2 separate regions of the Homo sapiens genome follow, and region 2 is linked to region 1. The links come from fine-mapping of genetic effects on gene expression. Tissue or cell type: monocytes. Region 1 holds a variant in brackets; the other region holds the start of a gene. All regions are shown on one strand. Distances are between the middles of the regions.

What was found. PIP is the estimated chance that this variant, and not a neighbour inherited with it, causes the effect.
Region 2: it holds the start of GDPD5, and the variant in region 1 is fine-mapped to the expression of GDPD5 in monocytes (BLUEPRINT, PIP 0.90).

What each region holds. Positions count from the first base shown.
Region 1 is chr11:75,660,706-75,668,807 of GRCh38, reverse strand. It overlaps MAP6 (microtubule associated protein 6), which reads left to right. Exons shown (of 4, transcript NM_033063.2): 1 at 1-1,343. The coding sequence starts at 439. Among named protein-coding and RNA genes, the nearest start is that of MAP6, 4.3 kb to the left of the region's middle. The variant A/G (reference allele first, on the strand shown) is at 4,547.
Region 2 is chr11:75,522,808-75,530,905 of GRCh38, reverse strand. It overlaps GDPD5 (glycerophosphodiester phosphodiesterase domain containing 5), which reads left to right and starts at 4,965. Exons shown (of 17, transcript NM_030792.8): 1 at 4,965-5,696. RefSeq lists silencers at 4,638-4,697, 4,748-5,267 and enhancers at 5,114-5,614, 7,542-7,591.

The DNA of each region.
Region 1 (8,102 bases):
ACTCGAGCCCGGTCCGCGGACCCTGCGGCCACACCGCCCGGCCCCTCCTCTGCGCCATGGCTTAAGCCTGTAGCCACCTCTCCTCACGTCGCCTCGCTCGACCGAGGTCTGTGCGCCGCCGCAGCCGCAGGGAGGGGCGCGTCCCAGACACCCTCGCCGGGGACTCGGGAACGCCGTGCGTCTCACCCTTCGGCGCTCGCAGCAGACTGCGCTCCCAAAGGCGTTTGCGACCGGTAATCGAGGGACTCTACAGACTCTCCTAGGACAGCTCTCCCCGGGTGCTCGCTGAGGGAGGAGGGCGAACTAGCTCCGGCTGATCGGGGGTAGAAAACGGTGGGAACCACATTGGCCGGTCAGGATCGGAGGCTGAAGGAAGATTATAGAGACTTGCTTTAGAACCACAAGAAGAAAGAGGAGGCCGGCTTTTCAGCTAGCATCATGGCGTGGCCGTGCATCACGAGGGCCTGCTGCATCGCCCGCTTCTGGAACCAGTTGGACAAAGCGGACATCGCTGTGCCGCTGGTTTTCACCAAGTACTCGGAGGCCACCGAGCACCCGGGCGCCCCGCCGCAGCCACCGCCGCCGCAGCAGCAGGCGCAGCCGGCGCTCGCGCCCCCCTCGGCGCGCGCGGTTGCCATAGAGACGCAGCCAGCCCAGGGCGAGTTGGATGCAGTTGCCCGGGCAACGGGGCCAGCGCCTGGGCCTACCGGCGAGCGCGAGCCGGCGGCGGGCCCCGGCCGGAGCGGGCCGGGCCCGGGCCTGGGCTCCGGCTCCACCTCCGGCCCCGCGGACTCGGTGATGCGGCAGGATTACCGAGCCTGGAAGGTGCAGCGGCCCGAGCCCAGCTGCCGGCCGCGCAGCGAATACCAGCCCTCCGACGCTCCCTTCGAGCGCGAGACCCAGTACCAGAAGGACTTCCGCGCCTGGCCGCTGCCGCGCCGCGGGGACCACCCGTGGATCCCCAAGCCCGTGCAGATCTCTGCGGCCTCCCAGGCGTCGGCGCCCATTCTCGGGGCGCCCAAGCGCCGGCCGCAGAGCCAGGAGCGCTGGCCAGTGCAGGCCGCCGCTGAGGCCCGGGAGCAGGAGGCGGCCCCCGGCGGAGCGGGTGGCCTGGCGGCCGGAAAGGCGTCCGGGGCGGACGAGCGCGACACGCGCAGGAAGGCCGGGCCTGCCTGGATTGTGCGCCGCGCCGAGGGCCTGGGGCACGAGCAGACGCCGCTGCCCGCGGCCCAGGCCCAGGTCCAGGCCACCGGCCCCGAGGCTGGCAGGGGGCGCGCCGCGGCGGACGCCCTCAACCGGCAAATCCGCGAGGAGGTGGCGAGTGCAGTGAGCAGCTCCTACAGGTGAGACGCGGCCGCTGCTAGCGCGGGGGAGTCACCACGCAGACCCTCCCCGCGGGCTGCCCGGGGCCCAGGATCCCCAGCGCAGGCCTAGCGTGCAGCCTCCCTCCAGTCCCAGGCCACACCCTCTCCCCAGCCGCCTCCCAGGCCACCTCCTGTCGAAGCCTTCTCTTCTGCCCTGTCCCATGCGCAAGCTGTTAGTATATTCCATCTCAGCCTGCCTGGCTCTTTCACTTTACCGCTGTAGCCCTTTTCTCCATCCCTCCCACCTCAGATCCCTGCCTTCCCACAGAGACCCTTTGCAATGTCAGCAGAGGCTGTGCTTCCGTCGTGCCCCCATCCAACTCACCTGCTGCGTTAGCCTGGATGTTGCCCTTTGCAGGGTCCCCATTCTTCCAGAAGAAGAATTCTTTCCAAGTGGCCTCTCGCCCTCCTCCCTAGCCCAGTTCCCTTGGCCCTTCATTCTTTCCTCCCTTTCTCAGTCTCTGGGCAACACCCAAGCACCATACCTTTTTCTAGATTACCCACAGGATCTTTACAAATTACCCCCCACCTTCCACCGCTGGAACTTTGAAGTCATTGTCCTTCCACCTCTCCCTAGCTGTGACATATTGGGCAAGTTTCCTAACCTTTCTGGGCCTCATGTTCTTATCTGTAAGATGTAATTGGTAATAGACATCTCTTAGGATTGTTCACACTTTTATTGATTTAATATTAAACATTTTATTTTTATTTAGTTAATATTAAATATTCAACATATTTTTGAGTGCCTACTATATGCCAGGCAGTGTGCCGGACATTGTGAGGATTAAATGAGATAATCAGGAGAACAGCTCGTGCCTAGCACATAGTGGTAATTAGTACATCTTGGTTCCATTCCTACCTTCCACATGATACCTTATGATCCTACTTCCTAGGTGCCTCCAGCCTTCTCTGCTATTGAGGCATCTTCTTTCTCTCTCCTTTCCCTACATGTTCTCCAGATGTCTCTCATTCTCTTGCCACCAAAAACCCCTTTCTCCAGCACACTCAATTCCTTGCAAATGAATGCTTTCAAGCATGAAAATCTCTCTCTCTCTTTCCTTCTAGAATTTTCCCTCTGCTGCAGCTTCAGCCATTCCAGTCTGCTTTCTTGCCCTTCATCCATCCGGTATATATTTCTGAAGGCTTAGCTTTCAATTCTCCCCTTATGTTTCAACCAACATCAATTAGCTAACAGAACACAGTTGACTCTGGACATGCAACATTGCATTTGGGGTCTCTCGGGGAAGATCTGTATGAAAGTAATTGAGCTAGAGGTGTTCAAAATGCAGCTTATGGGGTCCTTTATCAATGCCACAGCTTTCTGCTGCCTCCTTCCTGCAAGAGGGTGTGGGGGGCGGGGAGGACTAGAGAGTTAGTCCTTTGCCAAGACTCTGTATATAGGTTAGACTAATATCCTTCTCCAGTGAACATTACCAATACTCTCTCATAGGCTGAGGAAAGAATAGCATATCCAGACATCCTTCATGTTAAGAGAAAATCTGTCCCCCAACTCCTACCCCTGCATTTCTCATCTTCCTGAATTCCACCTCCCACTTGGCATCTCTCTCTTGGTTTATTGCTATCACAACAACCACACTGGGAACCCAGGAGTACAGCACTTCCTTTGAGCTCTTGGTCAAACAAGGACATAAATCCTTTTCCTTGAATAGCCATGAGATGGTAGAATGTTCACTATGTTTTTATGCTGCTACCAAGCGGGGAGCAAAAGAAAAGAGGGGAAACAAATAAGCAGGAGACATAAAAAACAAAGGCAGGATGTAGTTTTCTAGTTCTGCTATGGCTTGCTTGCTTCAAGACCCTACTTCATTTCTTGATCTTCCTACCCTGAGAAGCCCACGTCTGGCCCAACATCATAGATTACTGGCTTGGCCTCTTCATCTTCCCACTCTCATTCTAGCACCCTGTGGCAGGTGGAACCTTACTACCCACTAGCAGGAGCTGTCTCTTCTCACCACCATGCAGTCAATGCCAATCAAGAGAGATTCCAGATTCTTAAGCCTCCTTGGGTGATCCTACTCAGTTTATGATTTCAAGTTGGCAGGACTTGCTTTGTTTATGGATGAGTGGCCTGTCAGTCAAGGAATGACCACATCCTTTGAATATAACGCACTCCAGATTTGGGGTTGTACCTTGTTCCATATAGCCTTTTTCCTCAAAACAACAGCTTAGCTGTGCAGTAAGCATGTCGTGCTTCACATGCCATGCTTCACATTACACACATACTGGAAATGACTGGATTTGGTGGGGGAAGGCTATGCCCTCGGAGCTGGTGAGAATGATTATTTTTAGCACCTATCAATTCTATTAACCTGTCAAAAAAATCTTTGAACACCTCAAAAAAATTTTTAAATTTAGGTCTTTTGTAAAATTTAATTATACCTATGGCTTTCGGGCCAGGAGTACTATTTTGCTATATAATCAAAAGGGTTTTGAAATATTAAGGGAATGATTATTGCTAAGAAACATCAATTTCTTCAATGAACAATTTAAGTGCATGACAAATTTGATGTGAAATTTAACGGGTTTTTTTTTTGTTCCAGAATAAAAATTAACAAATAATTGAGAAATTCACTTTGATTGAAAGTAGATATAAAGAAATAAGCTATTCAATACATTAAATACACTGTAAAGAAAAAATGGTTGGCAATTATAAGCTTATCTAGAACATTGATTTTCCTTCCCTATTGTCTCACATTCTTTTCCTTGCTATGTTTCTAGGATATCTTCTGAATTTAAGTAAGTACCATGTCCACTGACATAAGATGGGCCTTATGTTGCCTTAGAAGGCTTAGAAGCCAAGCTGTGCTCCACTTCAATGATAATTTGATTTACAAACCCTTTTCTTCTGCCATTCTACATAAATTATGGTGTATTCACACCATGGTGACTGGTTCGTCTCATGGACTTTACAAATGACACCTGCCACATGACATCAATGTGAACAGTCTGCTTAAACAGAAAGGGACACACAGTCCATCATGTAAAATATACATTCAAAATTCAGAATCATATACATGCTCATTGTTTTACTTTACAATTTACAGTCATAAATAACATTAGATACCCTTTGACATTATGGTTTTGAGAAACCTTCCCTATTCAATAGCTCATCTAATTCCCAATCCATTCATATCAGCCTGAGATTTTTGCATTCAAGTAGT[A/G]TCCAGGATAGCTTTGGGATTATTCACAAACATGAGTTTGATTAATTTTTAATACATTCATTTTACATAGATGATATTGTAAAACTGAGAAGCATGTCTTTATTACCATTTTTAATGTTAAGGATGGGTTTCACTGGGAAGCCATTTGTGACTTTAGACCTGACGTTCTCAATTAGAAAATAGATGAGTCATAAGGAGGGGATTAAAATTCCTCTCCCAGTCAACCCCATTGCCCTGGCCATCAGATAATAGGGGTAGATAGGGTAGCAGCTGCTCCCTATAGAAATGCTAATGAGAAACTTTTCCTAGAAGAAACCAGCTGAGGCACCAGGAGGTAGAATTAATAAACCAGGGTGAAATACTTGAAAAATAAGAGCAGTAACAAGGAAGTTAGAAAGAAAAGGAGCCTTTAATGTCTGCCCTCCAGCCTTGTATGAAGGTTACAGGAAGACCCATCTGACTTAGTTTATGCTGTGCAGAACTGCCCCATTCCCTAACTGCCCATTTCCCTAATTTCCTTTTGGGTCAATCCCAGCAATGCCTCGAGGCCAATCTTGGATACTGAGTCTACAGCGATGCCTTCCTAGAGCCAGCCATTCTGAATCAATTGTTCTTCTATTCCCTTTTTACTTTCTGAACCCTTATCATTGTCTGCTTGATTGTAAAATACTCTTGTCCATGTCTGTCTCCCCCACCACGTCATGAACACCTGAAGAGAAGGCTGTATTTTGTTCACTCTGTACCTCTCACAGCCTAGGTGCCATATAGATTTGTTGAATCTAATGGACTTTTTAGGGCTTGTTGAAAATTTTATTTTTCTACATATTGATAGAGTCAATTTCATTTAGTTGAATTTTTTTCAGAAAATGATCACCAAGCCCCTGCCATGTACCAGACAAGGAGCTGGGAATACCAAATAAATGAGTCATAATTTTAATGTAAGAAAATTGTGTCTTCCTCAATCAAGTTAAAGTCCAAATCCTGGTCAAGCGCGGTGGCTCACGCCTGTAATCCCAGCACATCAGGAGGCTGAGGCGGGCAGATCACGAGGTCAGGAGTTTGAGACAAGCCTGACCAACATGGTGAAACCCCGTTTCTAAAAATACAAAAAATTGTACTAAAAATACAAAAAATTAGCCGGGCGTGGTGGGGTGCGCCTGTAATCCCAGCTACTCAGGAGGCTGAGGCAGGAGAATTTCTTGAACCTGGGAGGCGGAGGTTGCAGTGAGCCAAGATCATGCCACTGTCCTCCAGCCTGGGTGACAGAGTGAGAGTCCATCTCAAAAAAAAAAAAAAAAAGTACAAATCCTACCAGGTTAGCACTAGAAGTAAATGTTCAAACGGAGAAGGGCAGCAAACTTTACAGACCTGACTCTACATGGACCTTCACCTAGGGCAGCAGTCCTCAACCTTGGCTACACATTGGAATCAGTGGAGAACTTTCAAAAGACTGATGCATAGGTGCCTTGCCTAGAAAATCTGATTTCATTGGTCTGGGGTGTAGCCTGGGCAACCAAGTTTTTAAAAACTACTTCAAGTGATTCTAATGTGCAACTCACGTTATGATCTACTTTTATAAGGCATCATTCTCAAAATTTAGTACACAAAAGAATCACCTGGAGAGCTTTCTGAAATGCAGATTCCTGGGCCACATCCTCATACATTCTAATTCAATGGGCTTAAAATGGAGCCTAAGTATCTAATTTTTAGCAAGCACTCTAGATAATTTTAATGCAGATGAATGCAAGCTTTACTTGGGAAAAAATTACTTGGTGAGGTTTGCCATCTTTAAGCTATTGAGTTTTCCCACATGCAAACATGGCAAAGGTTGCCATTTATTTAAGTCTTTTATGTTCTTCACTTATATTTTGTAATTTTCTCCACAAAATCACATACACATATATACTCATATATATACACATATATACAGTTTTAAAGTTTTATTTCTGTATTTAAATTGTTAATAATCTAACTAGATTTTATCTTTATGAATGGAGTGAGGTAAGTATTGAATTTTTCCGTATATGGAAAGTCATTTATCCTTACACTGTTTTCTAAAGCTTTGCTTTTCCCCACTAACTTATGATATCTCCTCTATCACATAAGGGTCACATATCTTTAGATATTATATCTGGGTTCTCTGTTCTATTCCATCAGTCTGAGCTAATACTATATTATCTTATTTTATTTTATTCTGAGCTAGCTTTTAATTATTGTTCCTATCATGAAGAGTTCATTACCTTTTCTAATTTATTATTGCCCATATGCATTAAGTTTTGTATGTTAATCTTGTATTCAGGAAACTTATCACACTCTCTAATTAGTTTTGTTTGTAGACTTTCCTGGATTGTCTGTGGAGATAATGTATGTTTTTAGCAAATAACAATTTATTATCTTCCTTTCCAAGATTTATATATCTTGTTTTTTTGTGTGTGTTGCTCTGTTGGTTAGGACATCTGGTATGGTTTCAAATAGTAGGTGATAACAAACATCCTTGCCTTGGGATGTGGGAAAGTTTCTAAAGTTTTATCATTAAGTATGAGGTTTGCTTTATGTTTTTATAAGATAAGGTTAAGAAATTTCTATTTATCTTAGTTTGCTAGGGGTTTCTAAAAATTAGTTTGGCTGTTGAATCTTATTGAATGCTTTTTCTCTTATTGAAGGCTCAGCATCAGCTGAGATGATCTGTGATTTTTCTTTTTTAATCTGTTAATAGATTTTTTTTCTCATATTGAACCATCTTTGCATTTCTGGGATAAATCTTGTTTAGATAAAAATATATTTTATTATGCTGAATTTGGTTTGCTATTTTTTATCTGAAATGCTTGCGTATATATTCATAAGTAAGATTGGCCTATAATTTTTCCTTTTTTATATTAGTCTTATGTACTGTTGGAATCAAGGTTATACCTATAAAATTAAATGGGTAGATTCCCCTCCTTTTTAGTTATTTGAAAAAGTTTATATAAGAAGGGCTCCTCCTCAAATATCTGATAAAATTCTCCTGTAAAACTTGCTGGACCTGTTGTCTTTTTCATGGATTTTTTTTAAACTGTCAATTTGATGTCTTTAATACTGATTCACTTATTCAGGTGTTATATTTCTTCTTGAGCCAGTGTTGATAATTTATTTTTTTCTGGAAAAATGTACATTTCTTCTAATTTTATAATTTATTGACATAAAATTGATCATAGCATTATCTTGTGGATTTAAAAATAATCTCTACTTACCTGTAGTTATGTCTCCTTTTTCATACCTAATATTTATTTGTACCTTCTCGCTTTTTTTTTTCAGGATTAGTCTTGTTCAGATTTGTTTTGTTTTTTAGTCTTTCCAAAGAATAAATTTTTTATTTTGTTGAGCATCTCTTTTTTCAGTAAATTTTACTCTTATTTTTATTATTCGCTTTCTTTTTGTGCTCTGAGAGGTAGGCATAGGTCAGCTTATCAACAGCCTTGTATTCCTGGCTAAGAAGTTTGGATTTGCTTCTATAGACAATAATGAGTCACTGAAAAAATCTAAGCAGAGGGACAACATAGTTTGATTCAAATTTTAT
Region 2 (8,098 bases), 140 kb after region 1:
TCCCTGTGAAACCCTCCCATGGCTCCCCTCCACCCTCAGCACAGAGGCCAACTCTTGACTAAGACCTTGTGTGGCACGTCCCTCTGCCTGGCTCTCCAGCCACAGTCTCTCTTGACCTTTCGGCCTTGGTACTACAGAATTGATTTTGGTCTCCCAGATATACACCATGTACCTCAGGCCTCACTGACTGAACATTTGATCTTTTCATCCTTACCACCTTTGAAGTAGCCACTATTTTCTTTTTCTTTTTTTTCCCAACTGAGCTAACCGGCCTGAAGGAGCTACTATTTTCATCTCCCTTTTACCCACAGGAATCTCAGGCACAGAGAGGGAAGGTGACTGGGCCAGGATGTGCACCTGGCTCCCAAGCCCACAGCATCACAGCCCACAGTGCCCTACATCCAACCAGCTCTCCAGGCCAGGCAAGTGCCTCCAGCCCCTCTCCACTCCCCATTCCACATACACACTCTTACCAAATCCACCATGCGTTAAGCCAGGCTACAGCTCAGATGCTCACCCTGCACATGTGTCCCGGATCCCCTCGGGACCCCTACTTGACCTCCTTTGGCAATAAACTGGAACATAAAGTTTCCCCCAGGTGTACTGGGGTAGGTGTGGCCCCAGCTCCTACAGCCCTGTTATACATCAGCTGAGGTTAGTTGAGGCCACAGGGCCACTGAGGGCAGTGGAAGACCAGAGAGCAGGAGGGGCAGGCAGGTGGGGGTCCCAGGGATGCCCTCTGGATGTGCGTGAGTGGGCAGAGCAGGCTGGGTCCAAGCCAAGCTTCCCACTCCCCTTCACACTCCCTCCTTGCTAATGCTCCAATGTCCTCCAGATAAATTCCAAACATGAACCCCACCTATCATGGCCTCTCCGGCTCCCCCTCATTTACCTAACACTCACTAGGAACTTACGTGTGTCATCAACACTACCCTAGGTGCCTTACAAAAATTAACTCACTTAATCCTTATAAATATCCTACAAAGTAAGTACTGGGATTATCCCCACTCTACAGATAAGGAAACTGAGGCACTGAGTAACAACAGAGCTAGCACTTGGTAGTGTCAGGATTCGAACCTAGGCCATGTGGCTCCAGAGTCTGTGCTCTAACTGCTCTGTTGTGCAACCCACTTCTCCCTCCGTCATTTCTGTTGCCCTAAATACACTAACTTCTCACCCTCCACCTGCCCATTCCCACTTTCATGCCTTTGCGCTCAATGTTCCGTCTGCCCAGAAGACGCTTCCCTCCTTATCTTGATAAGTTCTGCTTCTTAAATACCCAAGTGTCACCCTCCCTGTGAAGCTGCCCTTGACCCAGCTTGCCCTCCTCCAGCTGAATCAGGCAGCCTCCTCTGTTCAGAAAGCACTTGGTACACATTTCCATGCAGACAGCTCTGGGACTGGGGGCTCCTCGATGATGAGGGCAGGTTCTCATCTGATTGTCCCATCCCTGGATACCCAATGTTTGGTATAGGACTTGGTCCAACTCAGGAAACATTGGTGAATGAGGGACTCGGGCAGCGAGAAATCAGACTCCACCCCTTGCCCTCCAAAAGCTCATAATCTGGTGGGAAAATTGACCCATCAACAGCAGCCCAGATCCAAAGGCATCAGAAGAGGCAAAGGGCCTTCGGTGCCACAGGCTCCAAAGGAAGAGGCTGTGCTTGTCACTGGGAGAAGTGGGCAGGGTTCTCAGAGGCATCAGCTTGTGAGAAGGGCCTTGAAGGATGGAGAAAATCCACTAGGCAAGCGGGACACATGCAGGCAGGAGGGACAGGGAAAGGACTCCAGGCTGGCAGGGACGGAGGCAGAGGGGTAGGAAGGCATGAAGCATTTTGAGGGCTCAATGAGCTCAGTGGAGCCCAATCACCCCACCAGACAGGGAGCTGCAGGAGGGCAGAGCGTCCCTGCCAACGCCTCACACAGGACCTGCATATATGGACGCAGTGGAAGGATTTGTTGGAAGTAGATCTCCAGGGGTGTGGAGCCTCATACAATTCAGTGGCCCTGTTTAAGAAAAACTGCAAAATACTAATATAAATGTAGACGTGAAAGTGAATGTCTATCTGCCATAAGAATGGGAGGAGCTGCGTTTAACAGCCCTGGGGCCCGAAGCTGAAGCTGCTGCCTCCGGTGAGAAGAATGTAAGGAAGGTAGAAGGTTCTTGGGAGAAGTAGGGCATCAGGCAGAAAAGGCTAATGTTTCCGTGTAGCCTCACCCTCGACCACCGCCCAGACCAGCCACCATGACCACCTCTGTCATGCTTCATGGAACTCCTTGGCCACCAAAAGGCCAGATTCCCCAGCTCACAAGACTCCCTCCCCTTTGGAAGAGTGGCCAGAGGGCAAATGTGGGTGTCTTGAGACCTGTTTGCTAGTCACCTCCTGACGACCTTGGGCATGCCTCCCCCTCACACACCCCCAGCGCCTCAGGGGTCATGGAGGGTCTGTTCTGAAAATCTCCTTTTATTCTGACATCCTGCTCATCTGACCCAGCTAAGGAGGCTCTCGCAGCAGGGGCAGCCAGAGAACTCTCTGAGAGCCTCATTCATCTCCCAGTGCCGAGATCTCACAAGGGCAGGCCATGTACCAGGCTGGATGGTGGCGGGTGGGAGGGAAACCAGACATGGAAATCAATCATTACAGAACCTTCAAGCTGAGGGAGCCCAGACCAAAGGCAGGCAGCCTGGGGGAGTTCAGGAAGGCTTCTCGGAGGTGGTGATAAATCTTGGTGGAGATAAATCTTGATAAATCTCATGAGAGATGGGTCATTTATTCAACAATTGTTTACTTGGCACCTACTATGTGCCAGGCTCCGTGCTAGGCTCTGGGGATACAGCAGTGAAGAGAACAGATGAGCATTTGGCCTAGAGGTTCTGCCCTTCAGCCCAGCAGAGAAATGAGAATTAACTCCAGAGAGAAGGGGAACAGCAAAGCAACACATGGAGGAGACAACTGCATGGAGACAGAATGCATCCTGCTTGCTGATGGAGCTGAGAGAAGTTGGCGCAAGTAGAGAGGGAAGTAAGCAATGGGGAGATGAGGCTGGTGGAGTCAGCAGGCAGAGAGCAATAACAAAGGGGCTGGAACGCCAGGCTAGGGATGTAGGGCTTGGTCATGCTGGCAACCGGGAGCCAGAGAGGGCTCTGGACAGAGGGAAGGGCCACAAGGTTTCTTAGCGTCAAGTTCAACAAGTAAAGGCAAAACTGCCTTCTCCCAGCCCTCAGGCTCCAGAGACCAGTCCCAACTTCCTGGGCCCAACTTGCCTACTCCCAACCCCTGGGCCTGAAGAAGACAGGGCACCCTCAAGTCCGCAGCCTGAACTTCAGCCTCCAGCTCACCCTCTTCTTTGTTCTTCCAACCAGTCTCTCAGCCATAGTCTGATGCCATTTCTTTTGCAGGGAATGCCCATGCTTCACCCTCTGAAGCCTGCTGCCTGCCCAGTCCCTCACCTGGTTCCCTGCCAAGTAGCACCTTTATTCTTCTTTTATAGATGAGGAAACAGAGGCTCAGAGAGGGAGAGTAACCTGTTAAAGCCACACAGCTTTACCCTAGAATTTGATAATGATGGGTGGATAGAACTCTGTGCCAGCTGTGTGGTCTCGGGAACGTCACTTAGCCTCTCTGTGCTGAGTCCTCATCTGTGAAATGGGGTACCTATCACAACATAAGGTTGGTGTGAGGTTTACAAAGAGACTGTACTGTGCCACCAACATCCCTTAGCTCCCCAGGCCAGTTAGCGGCTTTCACATGGTCCCTACCCCACTCCCCCGCGGCACACATTCAACTTTCATTCATACATCAGTTCCCTCCAACACCTTCTCTGCGCCTGGTCCTGTGCACACACTGAAGACGGCTCCTTGGCCAAGCACAGGGCTCACACCTATAATCTCAGCACTTTGGGAGGTCGAGGCAGGAGGATCGCCGGAACCCAGGAGATCGAGACCAGCCTGGAAAACATAGGGAGACCCTGTCTCTACAAAAAATTTAAAAATTAGCCAGATGTGGTGGTGCACGCCTGTAGTCACAGCTACTCCGGAGGCACAGGTGGGAGGATCTCTTTAGCCTGGAAGTTCGAGGCTGCAGTGAGCCGTGATAGTGCCACTGCACTCCAGCCTGGGCCACAGAGCGGGACCCTGTCTCAAAATAAAATGAAATAGAAAATAAAGACGGCTCCTGCACCCAACGCGCGGGGTGGGAAGGGGCGGGAGCGGACTGCAGATGCATCACGATTCGAAGTGTGTGTCCTCACACAACTCTGCTCTTGAGTTCGTATTTTTAAAATTGACCACGACGCTCCTCCTCGGGGATGGGCGCAGGGAAGGGAGGCTTGTGGAAGACAAATTCGCTCATTTCCAAAAACTTATTTTTCACCGTTTCCTGAAATCTGAACACTTCCCAGCCCAACTCTCACCTCTGAGCGCCGAGCACTAGAAGCTAGGGAGAAGCAAGGTGTCGGTGGCATCCCACCACTCAGGAGGGCTCGCTCCAGCGTCCCTGGGACCCCTGACCCCGGATATCCTCCACCTTGCCTCGCCCCGGCTTCTTTTCCTACACTGGCCCCTGCTCCTTCCCCGTGACCCCCGCAATCCCCGCACAGCAGTCCCCATGCCCCCGTCCCAGGCAAGCCAGCCCTCTCGCCTCTCCCTCCTTCCGGGTCCCGAGGCCAACCCCCTCCCCGATTCGGCCCGTTCCGAACCCCCAGCCCCGCCATTGTCCTCTTGCAGCCGCACCTCTCCATTGTCCGCCCCGCCCTCTCCGAGGTAGAATCCGCTTTCCGCAGGGCGCCGCTCCGCTCCCACCCTCGGATTGGCTCCTGCGGCCCCACGCGCGAGGCCCGGGAAGGGGAGAGGGCGCGCACCCCGCCCCTGCCCGCAGCCGGCCGGGGGCGGGGTCTCTGCTGACTCCGCCCCGTCCGGGCGGGGCCGCGCAGGCTGGCGCTGGGGCGCTGGGCGGCGCTGTTTCGGCTGAGCTCGGGCTGCGGCTCCGGTGGGGGTGGGTGGCGGGGATGACAGCGGAGGTGGCAGCGGCGCGGCGCTGAGCGAGCGGCGAGGGAGCAGGGGAAGAGGAGGAAGTGGAGCCGCGGCCGGGAGCTCGGGAGTCGGCCGCCGCGCCGAGGTTCGCCCCGTTTTGCAGAGAGAGCCGAGTCGGGACCTGGAAAGACTTCCCCGCGGGGCTCCGGCCGCCGCGCCTCCCCGCCGGCGCCTGCCCTGCCCTGCCCGTCCCAGCCCCGCGGTTCGGGGCGTGCGGCCGGGACGCGCGGAGCCCCGGCCCTGACCCGCTGCGCCGGGACGGGACGCTCCTAACGCCGCCGTACCGGTCCGTGGTTGCAGGGTCGCTCCGCGCCTTTCCGTCAGTGAGGGTCGGAACCCCAGCTCCAGGGCTAGCGCAGTGTGGCCCCAGGCCCTCGCCTCCGGTGCACGGGACCCCGGACCCCCCCAGCCTCTGGCTTCACGAGACCCCAACCTTCAGTTGGAACAGCTTGGAACAGCGCGAGCGCCCGGGAAGCCCTGGCCGGGTCGTGCGCTCGGTGAGGGGTCCTAGGCGGGCAGGACAGTCGGACCGAACCGCCGGGCTGGTGCCGCGAGCCCAGGCTGTCACCTTCGTCCCGCCTCAGGTGAGGGGTTCAGCGCCTGCCCCGAAGATAACACAGGGGTCCCCTTCTGTCCCGGCGGCCTGCGAGAGCCAAGGCTGCAGGTGAGAGCCCCGGATGCGCGGCAGGAGCGGTCCCCGACCCCATCGCGGCAGCGCGGGGGCCAGCGGAGGGAGTGTCAGGGGAAACAAGCAGAGGCTGGAACTGGCTGGGAGGGGGCGCGGGAAGGGGAGGGGAAAGAAAGAAAACGGGTACTTATTGAGCGCCCATTGTGTGCGGGTTCGCGCCCTGCCCCGCCCCGCCCCGCCTAAGCCTCACTGCTACTCCTGAAATAGGTGTTGTGTATTATTATCGGCGCTTGCAGATGGAGAAACTGAGGCTTAACGGGGCTGAGTGACCTCCTTTCACTGCGGGGAGGAGACTGGGGAAGCGGGAGAGGATAGAGGGGGAAGAGGCAGAGCACTTGAGCGCTGATGCTAAAGCTGAGGAAGTGGCTTCTTCTTGCCTCCCGCTCCCTGGCCATGTCACCCGCGAGGAAAGGTGACTCAGAGTTGAGGGTAGAGGTGGGAAGCTTCCCAGTTCCAAAGCTTCTCTCCCTGTGGGCCCAGGATGTGAGAGCAGCAGCTCCTGGCCCTTGTGTGTCAGACTCCAGGGTCTCTAAGACACTCTGGAGGTCCTGAGACGTGCTTATCTGTTGGTGAATTCACTGCAGAGATCCCCAAGTAAGGGTCTGTCAGAGCTGGAGATGTAGCCCCTCTGGGGTGGCTGGAGATGTGGCTCACGTGACTCACCTCCCTCACATTACTAATGGGGACACTGAGGCCCACCCGAAGGGAGTGCCAGTTGTCCGATCCTAAAGCCAGTGAGTCCTTGAGCCACAAGTAGACTTGAGAAAACCTTCCTGAGCATCCTTCAAGGTATGCACACTCCTCCCCAGTTAGGATCTTCTGGATAGGTGGCTGGGGCTTTCCCTATCGCTGATGTGAGATCTGGGCGACCATGTATGAGGCTGTGGTGAGAATTAGTGTGGTTGGTTGCTGGGGCCCCGAGGAATGCCTGCAACCGCATTGCCTTTGGCCCAAATGGAAGGTCCAACCTCATTTTCTTCTGGGCAGGGGAACCTGCAGGATACCTCTGCCCAGGAAGGAAGGGACCTGCTCAAGGTCTCAAGGCTGGGGGCTCCCAGGGCTGGGGCACAGTCCCAGGTGTCTTTATTCCCAGGCAGGGGATGCTTCTGCTGCCCCCAAGGCATGTAGGGAGAGGGGTGTTGTGAAAGAGCCCTTGGCATGGACTCTGTGGGCTCTTATTCTGTGTGGGGACGGGGAGGGGATATGGCCTTGGTCTGGGCCCTGTGGCCTTGGCTAGGCCTAGTTAACCCTAGAGATGCCCAACTCCCTGGAGTCAAGGGGAAACCACCTTGGAAAGCCCCTGGAAGGTGGAGGAGCGTGGTGAGAGGTCTGTGGAAGTCTGAAGCTCAATCCCTGGGGGTGGAAGGGTTAGGGGATCCCAAAAGACAAGGTGACTGAGGGGCTTGGGATTCCCTCTACCCCAGACCTCTGTCTGGGGCTTCAAATCCTCGCAATAATCTCTATGTCTAAACAAAGCTCTTTGATGAAATAATTTCACACCTGTGATCTCCTTTCATGACGTGGAGAGAGCCTGGAACCTAGAGTGAAGCAGAGGAGGGTTGCAGAGTCACTTGTGACCTCTTGATGCATCCATGGTTCCAAGTGCCACTTTAAAATAGGTTATGGCAGGCTGTGTGTTACCTGCTCAGTTAGTGGGGCCATCACATCTGGCTGTCAAGTGCTAAGGGGCATGTTGTACTTGCCAAGACTGGGGAGGTTATTAATGGCCCAGTCTCGTGTGGGCAACTGAAGCTCAGAGAGGTAAAACCACTTCCCCAGGGCCTTTGAGTTTGCTTGTAGAACTGTTTGAGTGCCAGCTGCATACCAGGTGCCCTGGAAGTTACCCAGACGGGCTAAGCGGCAGCCTCGAGCCACAGTAACTGGTGAATCCCAGATAGTGGTAAATCAGACAGACCAGGTGGGCGTGAGTCTACTGTGCCTCCCACTAGCTGAGTGGCACTGAGCAAATCACTTCATCCCTCTGAGCCTATAAAATTAGAATACCTCCTTTAGCAGGTTGTTGCGAGGATTAAATGAGCTACAAAGATGCAGTGCCTGGCCAAATATCCGTTTCCATCCCTATGAAGAAAAGGAAGCTTGAAGTTTGACCAGGAAGTCTGGGGAAATTCTCAGACTTGTCTTCGATTAGAACGCAGGATATGGTTGCAGGGCAGGCTCAGAGACCTGAATTTGCTCAGCTCAGGCTGCTGTGTGGGTCACACTCCCCTAGTCTCATAGCCTCTAGAATCAGTCTGCTTGGGGACACCGGCAAGGGGCTCTGGATTCTTACCCCCTCCCTTGGCTTCCTGCTGGCAGGGCTGTGGTGCCTGGAGCTGGTGTCCATTCCCTCGGGCCCATTGTCTGACCTCCCTAGGCAC